Regions from separate parts of the Homo sapiens genome. Here region 2 is linked to region 1. Evidence: fine-mapped expression QTL. A gene starts in region 1. The other region holds a variant in brackets. All regions are shown on one strand. Distances are from middle to middle.

Region 1 (5,363 bases):
CATAACAAATTGATGCGTGGATATATGAATCTTGTATTAAGAAGAGAGGGCCACAGACATAAATTTGGGAGTCACTGGCCAATACAGCCAAAAGATAAGTTCACCAAGGAAGTGAATGTAGAGAAAAAAACTAAATTTTGTGTCACTCCCAACAACGGGAGGTCAAGAAATGAAACCATCAAGTAAATTGCAGAAGAATGATCAGTAAGGGCTGGGCACTGTGGTTCATGCCTGTAATCCCAGCACTTTGGGAGGCCTAGCCGGGAGGATCGCTTGAGCCCAGGAGTTTGAGATCAGCCCTGGCAACAGAACAAGACCTCATCTCTCCAAAATATCAGCCAGTCATGGTGGTGTGCATCTGTAGTCCCAGCTACTCAGAAGTCTGAGGCAGGAGGATCGCTTAAGCCTGGGAGGTCCAGGCTGCAATGAGCTCTGAGGGGTGACAGAGTGAGACCCTGTCTCAAAAAATAAATAAATAAATAAAAAATAAAAAAAGGATGACTAGTAAGATGGAGAGCAGCAAAACCGAAAGTATGGTGTCCTGGAGCCAAATTAATAAAGCATATCAAGGTTTCTGGCTTACACTACTGGAAGCATGGAGGTACCCATCACCAAGATAGGGAAATCCTGGAAGAATATCACGTTTGTGAAGGTAAAGATAACGAGTTTGGCCCAGATATGCTGAGGTACATAATCAACACTGAGTAAATTAAGGAACAGTAAGCTGTAATTTTAAAAGCCTGAGTCTGGTCTCTAATTCTTTGTTTGCTCTGTGACGTAAGTTGTCATTATCATCCTGAGGCTCAATTTTCTTTCCTATGACATGGAGGTAATATTTATACGAGTAACCACAAATGGTTGCTGTGTAGATCAAATATGGTAATTTAAGAAAAAAAACTTCAAACCCCTATGAAGATATAAGAAAAAGTCACAGAATACAGAAAGTTGTAGGAATTCTAAGAAACAAAAGTTATATTTAATCCTTATAAGGAAAAAAAGAAGAGAGAAAACTAAATCAGGCCTATAAGGAACCATTCACCCTGTACCTTTAGCTGAGTCCTGTGGAATTCCTGCTTTATTTCAAAGGTAACAAACCCTTCTTGTTTTTAATCTTTTCCTTAAACACCTCTTCAACTTTCTAACCCAACTGAAACTCGGCTTATCTCTGAAGACACCACTTACCTTGACACCAGTCATAATGACATATCATCCTCCAAACATGCCTTAAATGTTAAGATTTCCATATTTTTGCTCATATGTTATTTCTTTACCTGGAATTTCCTTTCCCCATTTCATTCTCTATCCAAATTCTAACTATCCACAAGGAACTGCAAGGCCATCAGCATCATGAAGGCTACCATGGTTCCTCACAACTGAATGAAGCCTCTTCTTCTTTTTTTTTTAAAGACAAGTCTCACTATTGCCCAGGAGGCAGTGTAGTGACACCATCGTGGCCCACTGTAGCCTCAATCTCCTGGGCTCAAGGGATCCTCATGCCTCAGTCTCCCAAATAGCTGGGACTATAGGTGTGTACCACCATACCCAGCTAATTTTTTCTGTAGGGACGAGGTCTCCCTATGTTGCCCAGGCTGGTGTCAAACCCCTAAGTTCAGTCCTGCCTCAGCCTTCCAAAGTGCTGGGATTAACAGGAGTAAGCCACTGCGCCAGATTGAACCTCTTCTTTAGAACCACCACAGCACATAACATGTATCTGCTACGCCCCTCACTTCCCTCTAGTTGGTATTACACATTTTGCATAAAAGTCTTCTATTTCTAAATAGGCTTCAAGTCAGGTTCATCTTTGTATCAGCTGGTGCTCTTAAAATATTTATTGTGAACATGGACTTAATGAGCTTGACGTGTTGAAATTATTTCTAATGTGTTGCCATACTCACATTTTTTACTCTGTTTTTCCACTTCTGCCTTCAGTCTCTTGTACTTGTCTGTCCTGTAAACCAGGACCCAGGTTATGCCTAAAACATTAAAAGCAACATGTTAATAGAGAAATGACTGGAATGATCACAACAAACAAAGTGGTTACTGTTGGAGAAGGAGGAATTCCAACTTTTCGCTTTGTATTTACCCATAGTTAACTTTTTTCAAAGGCTAATACAACTGACTCTTCAGCCAAAACAACAGTAACATGATGTGAAGGTGTCTCCACAAATACCCAAGTGAAATCTACCTGAGACCAAAGAAAACTCGGCAATCGACTCCATACTCCCCTCCTGCTCCTGTTCACGAGTTGCCCAGAGATTCCCTGAAGTGGAGTAGATGAGCCTCTCAAGCAAGTAAGGCTCGCGATCTTTCCCCTGGTGGCACAGGGGACCCCGGGGCCCTTCCTCCCGGGGACTGATCAAACGTCTGAGAAATACCCGCTCTCACCCTCTGCGAGCAGAGCCGTGCACACAGAGATAAAAACGATGAGGAGAGTGTCCGCGAACATAGTGCTCATCTCGCACCTTCGTCTCTGCACTCTCACCCGCCAGGGGGAAAGCGCTCTACAGCCAGGAAAAGTGAAGCGAAAACGGCTTCCGTAGACTCCGCCACCACCGAGTAACAGACCAACTCTGACAGCCCGAAGATCGCACTTCCGCTTCCGGGGCATAGCACCGGAAAGGCTCGTATCGGAGAACGGTGTGGCCACGAGAGTCTAGAGGAAACCAACCCGCAACTCACTGGAGCTGAAGGGCTGGTAGTCAGGCCGAATCTCGCGAGAATTGGAACTATTTCAGAGCCAGAGGAGGATAGTGGCGGCGGCGAACTTTGCCCGGTAGATTTTACTGACTGGGGTGCTGGCGCGCGCCTTTTTCTCGGCCAGAATCCAGTTATTGGGATAGTCTTGACTTCTACCTCAGCCCAACTTCTGTGGTCGTAATATTAGTTTAGCTTGGGTTTGCCGTGAAGTAAGAAGACTGACTTCCGCAAAGGTACTGAACGACTGGGTGTAGGTGCCAGGGCATGGACGTGAAGCTGGAACCGCGAAATGAGTTAGTTGTGGGCCGCTGGCCTCAAGGAGCGAACGTCAGCGCGAAGAGGAGAAGCTTGTGCATACGCTCTGATAAGGGTTTTAATAGAGGTATTACCACAGTGCTGCGTGACACGGTTGAGAGAGTGGTCAGAAGAAGCTAATGAAAGGAATTGAAGCAGTGCCTTAGGGGAGTAGGAGTACTTTTGGAGATAGCAAAGGACTTTCTAGGCAAAGTGGAAGTCAAAGCACGGATGCCTGAAAATTCATAGTGTGATAGTGCAGTGAGTAATGTATCTAGAGAAGGGGTCTTAAACCCAGATGCCTAGACTGGCGAGAGAAAATAAATTATCTTATGCAAGCTGAGCCTAAACAAATGGTGGAAGTTACTACGATGGATAAGTGAGCATTAAGTTCATCTGAAAGGAGAATTTGATACCCAAATCCAACCCATTTCTCTAGGAGAATGAGCACCCAGTTTCTGAGATGTCTTCGTTTCTCAGGAAAATCCAGAAATCCTGGGTTTTATGTGAAACTTAATTTATAAGTGTTGCTAACTAATTAAAATTCAAAAATGTCTCAGCAGCGTGGTTTCAGCCATTGTAGACGGTTTCAGCTTTTTCACACTGGGGTGTGTGTGTGTATGGGTGAAAACCTGGAAGCTGGCTGAGCTGTATCCTCTTGTACTTCCTCCTATCATTGGTGTTTTTTTGTTTGTTTGAGATGGAGTTTCACTCTTGTTGCCCAGGTGGAGTGCAATGGCACAATCTCGGCTCACTGCAACCTCTGCCTCCGGGTTCAAGCCATTCTCCTGCCTCAGCCTCCCAAGTAGCTGGGACTACAGGTGCCCGTCCCCACGCCCAGCTAATTTTTTGTATTTTTAGTAGAGACGGGGTTTTGCCATGTTGGCCAGGCTGGTCTTGAACTCCTGACCTCAGATCCACCCACTTCGGCCTCCCAAAGTGCTGGGAATACAGGCGTGAGCCACCGTGGCCGGCCCTCATTGGTTCTTTTAAACTGTACTGCACTTAAATATATAATTCTCCTAAACACTACTTTTGACTTTTTTTTAGCTTTATGTGCATTTCTTGTCTCCCAGACTTAGCAACAGAGACCCTGTCTCCTTTTTAAGAAACATTATTGAGCTTCTACTATATGTCAAGAACTGTGGTAGGCACTGTAGGGTCAAAAGGATGGTTAAGAGAATATTCCTGACTTCTAAGGGCCCAGGGAGATTATATAATATAATAAGATTATAGGTATTATAGAGGTATTCTTAAAATGTTGAGGGGGTACAGATGAAAACAAGATGTATTCTTCCTGGGGAGTTGGAAAGGTTTCAGAAAGATCATATTTGAGCTAGACCTTTATTTGAGCAGTTCAGACAAGGATAGGTTTTTATTCACCTTTGTATCACCCAAGGTAAGTGCTGAGATAACAATAAGAGCATGATCTTGGAAATCAGACCTGATTTTAAATTCTTGCTCTGCCACTTACTTGACAGCAGTCCTAGAACCTATTGTTTAGCATCTTTGAGCCTTCAAAATGGTGGTAACATCAGCTATGAAGACTGGATGAGGAAAAGTATATTATAAAGCATTTCAAGCAGTGCTTGGCACACACAATTCATCAAATTCAACATGCTATTCATTGTAAGACGCATCATTATTTTATCTACTACTAAAGAGGAAAAAATAACTAATTAAACCATGACACACCATTGATTGTAAGAAGAATCCCATTCAGAGATGTTAAAATATGAAAAAATGAGAAAATATGAAATATATTAATAAGCAGTTAAGTTATTCCTGTGTAAATGTTTACAACCATGGACTGCTAGGATACACTTCCTTTTCTAGGGTAATGATGTCATGACACTATGCCCCTTGTTTAAGAACAGTGCTAGAAGTCAGGCGCGGTGGCTCACGCCTGCAATCCCAGCACTTTGGGAGGCTGAGGCGGGCGGATCACGAGGTCAGGAGATTGAGACCATCCTGGTTAACACGGTGAAACCCCGTCTCTACTAAAAATACAAAAAAATTAGCTGGTCGTGGTGGTGGGCGCCTGTAGTCCCAGCTACTCGGGAGGCTGAGGCAGGAGAATGGCGCGAACCTGGGAGGCGGAGTTTGCAGTGAGCCGAGATGGCGCCACTGCACTCCAGCCTGGGCGACAGAGCAAGACTCGGTCTCAAAAAAAAAAAAAAAAAAAAAAAAGGAACAGTGCTAGAGACAAGTTCAGATAACATCTTTTCTAGATTCTACTAGTTTTCTTTGTTATATTCCCAAATTCTCTAAGCTCTTAGTTGTACTATCTAATTTTTAGATTTCAAAGCTTTCCCCATGAGGACTGCTCTCCCAAAGCTCACTGACCTCCTCCAATCTCTAGTACAATAGGA
Region 2 (5,379 bases), 54 kb before region 1:
ATAACTGGAACTTTGTTCTTTATGACCAACATCTCCCCATTTCTCTCCCTCTCAGCTCCTGGAAACATCATTCTACTTGCAGAGTCCCCTTGATTTGAAGGCTGAGTACTGATCTGCAGTATTCAGCAATGAGGAAACTACCCAGGGCCAGGGGAAAAACCACCAGAAAGGAGGAGGCAGGAAAAATCCCTTGACCTCATATAGGACTGGGAATAGTTTGGGTTCCCAGCAGCCAGCGTGGAAAGATCTTATAGGGCATTGTGTAGGGTCCTCAGAAGGCTATTGCCTCAATAATGGGCTCAAATTAGCCCTAGGCTAGTGGCTGTTCTGGGCCTGCCATAACAAAGCTTAAAAGGAAGCCTCTCACGCCTCTGCGCTCCAGCCTGGGCGACAGAGGGGAACTCCGTCTCAAAATAAATAAATAAATAAATAAATAAATAAATAAATAAATAAATAAATAAATAAAAGCCTCGGAAGAATCAAACCAATTCCAAATAACTTATCTTGTCCCAGAATAAAACTCTTGAAATATTCAAAGTAATACAAGAAAGTCTATCACCTAATAAAGTAAAATCCACAATGTCCAGGAGCCAATAAAAAATTATCAGGCATGCAAAGAAGCAGGAAGAGATAACTCATGATCAGGAGGAAAACCAGTCAAAAGAAACAGACCCAGAAAACACACAGATGATGGAATTATTAGACAAAGATGTTAAAACAGTTATTACACATATACTTCCTATGCTTAAAAAGTAAAGTATAAACATGATGAATAGGAAAATGGAAGATATATAAAAGACCCATATCGAGATGGGTCTAGAGATGAAAAATTCAGTACTGGAAATTAAAAATAAACTGAATGACATGAACAGGTAGATACTACAGAAGAAAATATCAGTGGATTTGAAGGCACAGCAATCATTTTTTAGAAACTACGAATGAAACACAGAGAAAAAGAGACTGAGAAAAAGTGAATTAGTGAGCTGTGGGGTAATATCTAGTGACTGAACATGTATGTAATTAGAGTCTCAAAAGATACAGCAATTGGGAGGTAGAAAGAAAAAATGCTGGAAGAAATAATGATCAAAAATTTTTCCACATTCGGCCAGGCATTGTGGCTGATGACTATAATTCCAGCACTTTGTGAGGCCGAGGCAAGAAGATCGCTTGAACCCAGGAGTTTGTTACCAGCCTGGGTAACATAGTGAGAACTCCTGTCTCTAAAAATAAAAACAAATTAAAAAATTTAAAATAAATTTTCCAAATTTGATTGAAACTACAAGCTTACTGGCCCAAGAAGTTCAATGAACTTCAAGCAAAAGAAATGTTAAGGAAATGACACTGGGCCGGGCACAGTGGCTCACGCCTGTAATCCCAGCACTTTGAGAAGCCAAGGCAGGCTGATCACCAGAGGTCAGGGGTTCGAGACCAGCCTGGCCAACATGTTGAAACCCCATCTCTACCAAAAAGACAAAAATTAGTCAAGTGTGGTGGCACGTGCTTGTAATCCCAGATACTACTCGGGAGCCTGAGACAGGAGAATCGCTTGAACCTGGGAGGCGGAGGTTGCAGTGAGCCAAAACTGTGCCACTGCACTCCAGCTTGGGTGACAGAGTGAGACTACATCTAAAAAAAAAAAAAAAAAAAAAAGAACACATCCTAATCAAAAGACCCAAAAGCTGTGCAAATAAAAAATTCTAAAGGAGGTGGTGAGGAATATGCCTTCTTCAAGGATTATTCAACTTTTGCAGCCTGATTTCTGCAAGTTTGGGAGCACAAGACTTGCTTTATTTTAACAAAAACTTTTTAGGCCAGGCTTCCTGAGGTTTCTCCAGCAATAGTTATGCTTCAAAGGCTTACAAGATGGCTGGGCGCCATGGCTCACGCCTGTAATCCCAGCACTTTGGAAGGCCGAGGTGGGTGGATCACAAGGTCAGGAGTTTGAGACCAGCCTGGCCAATATAGTGAAACCCCGTCTCCACTAAAAATACAAAAAGTAGCCGAGCCTGATGGCAGGCGCCTGTAATTCCAGCTACTTGGGAGGCTGAGACAGGAGAATTGCTTGAACCCAGGAGGCGGAGATTGCAGTGAGCTGAGACTGTGCCACTGCACTCCAGCCTGGGCAACAGAGTGAAATTCTGTCTCAAAAAAAAAAAGCTTACAAGACAGGCTGGGTGCGGTGGCTCACGCCTATAATCCCAGCACTTTGGGAGGCTGAGGTGGGTGGATCACCTGAGGTCAGGAGTTTGAGACCAGCCTGGCCAAAATGGCAAAACCCTGTCTCTACTAAAAATACGAAAAAATAGCCGGGTGTGGTGGCGGGCACCCGTAGTCCCAGTCACTTGGGAGGCTGAGGCTGGAGAATGGCTTGAACCTGGGAGGCGGACGTTGCAGTGAGCTGAGATAGCCCCACTGCACTCCAGCTTGGGTGACAGAGCAAGAATACATCTTAAAAAAACAAAAGCTTACAAGACATTTAATCTGTTTGCTTCTTCTATTCAGTACCATGTGCCAATAGCCACAGCCAGGATTCTTTTCTAGACAGAGTCCTTAAGCCTATTTTATCTCTTTTCTTCCCTACCCCAAACCCTCTTTTCTCAATTTAGTGTCAGTTGTCTTGAAACTATCTGAAACAATTGGGCAAGATTGAAAGAAGATCTTTGTCTGACTGAAATGTCTCAATGACAGTCCTCTGAGCTACAAGTCTTGTCTCGGCTATTACGGTATTGAAGCAGTTGGCTTTTAGAAATCTTTAAGTCCTCAAGCTTCTGGACTCTATTCCCTTCTTTCACTTGCAAACCAGTAGATTCTAGTCTGAGCTCATCTCTTTTTTGAACATACCTAGCCAAAAACAGCCAGCAGCAGCCAACTCACAGTTACATTCTGGCTCATTCCATCTACCTTCCCTAGAAGTACCAGTACCATAAGAGTTGTGTCTGCCTGTCAAGTTA[T/C]CACAGCAACAGTTTTACCAAATATTTTGCCATGGCATAGGAAGAGGCTCCGTCTTTCAGTCAGTGATATCAGTTCCTAACCTCCTGCTGTGCATCTACTAAGCCAATCCCTCTGTTTTAGGTGTTGGATTTCTAAATTAGGGTATGTTAAGCTAGTTTATTAAACAGATCCAAAATGTAATAGTTTACACCCAATATAAATTTTTTTGCAATTTACCTAACAGTCCAGAGGCATCTAAGTAAAATGTTCAAAATCTGTAGGAGCAGGGTTGGAGAAGAGGTGACTCAGCTCCACATGGTAACTGAAGGACTCAGGATGCCATCTTCAACACATGGTTTCCAAGGACACTCTCAGCATGAACCTCCCAGTCATCCAGAGAAGAAAACAGCAAGAAGTCTTCACTGGTAAGGCATGAAGTGGTTCACATCACTTCTTTTCCCATGCAAGTGGAGAGAACTTAGTTGAATGACCACAATGAACTGCAAGGGAAACTAACTATGAGAGTGAAGAATGGATTTGGCGAGACAGAGGTCCATCTCCATCATTAATACAAGCACTGTATCAGTCAGAGTTCTCCAGAGAAAAAGAAATAATAGGATAAAAAGACAGGGAGAGAGATTTTAAGGATCTGGCTCATGTGACTGTGGGGGCTGGCAAGTCTGAAATTAGTAGGGCAGGCTAGCAGGCTGGAGATTCAGGATAAGAGTTAAGTTGCAGTCTTGAGTTGAATTCCACAGGGCAGCAATTTGGAAACTAAGTTACGGTTTCTACATTGCAACCTTGAGAATTTCTTCTTCTTTAGGAGACCTCAGTCTTTGCTTGTGAGGCCTTCAGTTGATTGGATGAGGCCTATACATGTTATGGAATGTAATATGTGTTACTCAAAGTCTACTGATTGTTAAGTGTTTATCACATCTAAAAAATAACAGCACAGCAACATCTGGGCTGGTGTTTGACCAAATAACTAGGTCCCATAGCCTAGCCAAGTTGACACAAAGTTGACCATCACAGATAACCAAATATTGACAATGGTTACCTTTTGGAATCTGAAGTAAGGGAAGGTGCATGAGGACGGCATAGGGAAGAGAGGCACAGATTTTTGCTTTTCATTTTATACCTTCACAGATATTTGTATTTGTACCAAATGTGTATATTGCTTTTTTACAATTGTTATTTTTAATAAGAAAGACAGAACTTTGTGGATTGAACATGTGAGCCTGAAAAGAAAAAAGGCCCTTTTTTTTCTTTTTTCTTTTTTTTGTGACAGAGTCTCACTCTGTTGCTCAGGCTGGAGTGCAGTGGTGCAATCTCAGCTCACTGCAACCTCCGCCTCCTGGGTTCAAGCGATTCTCCTGTCTCAGCCTCCCAAGTAGCTGGGATTACAGGCGCACGCCACCACACCCAGCTGATTTTTATATTTTTAGTAGAGATAGGGTTTCGCCATGTTGGCCAGGCTAGTCTCAAACTCCTGACCTCAGGTGATCTACCCGCCTTGGCTTCTCAAAGTGCTGAGATTATAGGCATGAGCCACCGCACCCAGCCAAAAAAAGGCTTTTTGAAAAAGAGGATGAGGCAGTGGGTAGCTAGGAGCACATCGACCCTGCCTCTTGGTCCTCAGACAAGAGAAGAGAAACAGCAGCGTCTGCTCAAAAGGGTTGTGAATTATCATGGATTATCAGATATATTTGTGTAATTACATTGACATTTCCCTCATAAGAAAGTTAGGTTTTTAGTTCAAGTGGTAGGAGTATTCTATGATAAAATTGAGAATCTAGCAAAGTCTCAGCAAAGAACAGGGGCTGCAGAGGACACATTGAAAATTAAATACAGAGCAAAGGTGAGCCAGGATGGAGGAAGGCCTCGGCAGACTGGAGACATGCGATAAGAAAGACAATGGTCCCAGGAGAAGAGGGACAAGGGGGTCAAAAGGCATGCCAGAGAGACCCTCCCAGATCTACCTGCTCTCTTTCTCTCCTATTTTTAAGATTTCTCACCTTGTCGAGGGGGAAACAAAGCCTTTTATTGTTTTTTGTTGTTTTGTTTTTACATGGAAGTTTATTGAGAAGCTTGAGGAGTGGCAGGAGAGTCCAGGAATAAAAAAATGTAATAATACTTGCTGTGCATTTACCAGGTCTATGTCTTCATGTTCAACCACAGGGAGCCTCTCGTTGGCCCCATTAGAGGACCCATTCTTATTTATTTATTTTTGAGACAGGTTCTCATTCTGTCTACCAGGCTGGAGTGTAGTGGCGTGGTCTTGGCTCACTGCAGCCTCGACCTCCCTGGGCTCAGGTGATCCTCCCACCTCAGCCTCCTGAGTAGGTGGAACTATAGGCACCTACCACCATACCCGGCTAATTGTTGTATTTTTTTATAGAGACGGGGTTTCACCATATTGCCCAGGCTGGTCTCAAACTCCTGGGCTCA

Evidence for each region. PIP is the estimated chance that this variant, and not a neighbour inherited with it, causes the effect. A credible set is the group of variants that fine-mapping cannot tell apart.
Region 2: its variant is the best candidate, but not a certain one, in a credible set for the expression of TMCO1 in T cells (TOPMed, PIP 0.59).

What each region holds. Positions count from the first base shown.
Region 1 is chr1:165,766,297-165,771,659 of GRCh38, forward strand. TMCO1 (transmembrane and coiled-coil domains 1) reads right to left here and starts at 2,572. Exons shown (of 7, transcript NM_019026.6): 1 at 2,386-2,572; 2 at 1,896-1,973. The coding sequence starts at 2,455. TMCO1-AS1 (TMCO1 antisense RNA 1) reads left to right here and starts at 2,633. Exons shown (of 3, transcript NR_125374.1): 1 at 2,633-3,079. RefSeq lists enhancers at 2,183-2,859, 2,860-3,535.
Region 2 is chr1:165,712,519-165,717,897 of GRCh38, forward strand. No RefSeq gene overlaps it. Among named protein-coding and RNA genes, the nearest start is that of ALDH9A1, 17 kb to the left of the region's middle. RefSeq lists a silencer at 2,500-2,700. The variant T/C (reference allele first, on the strand shown) is at 2,952.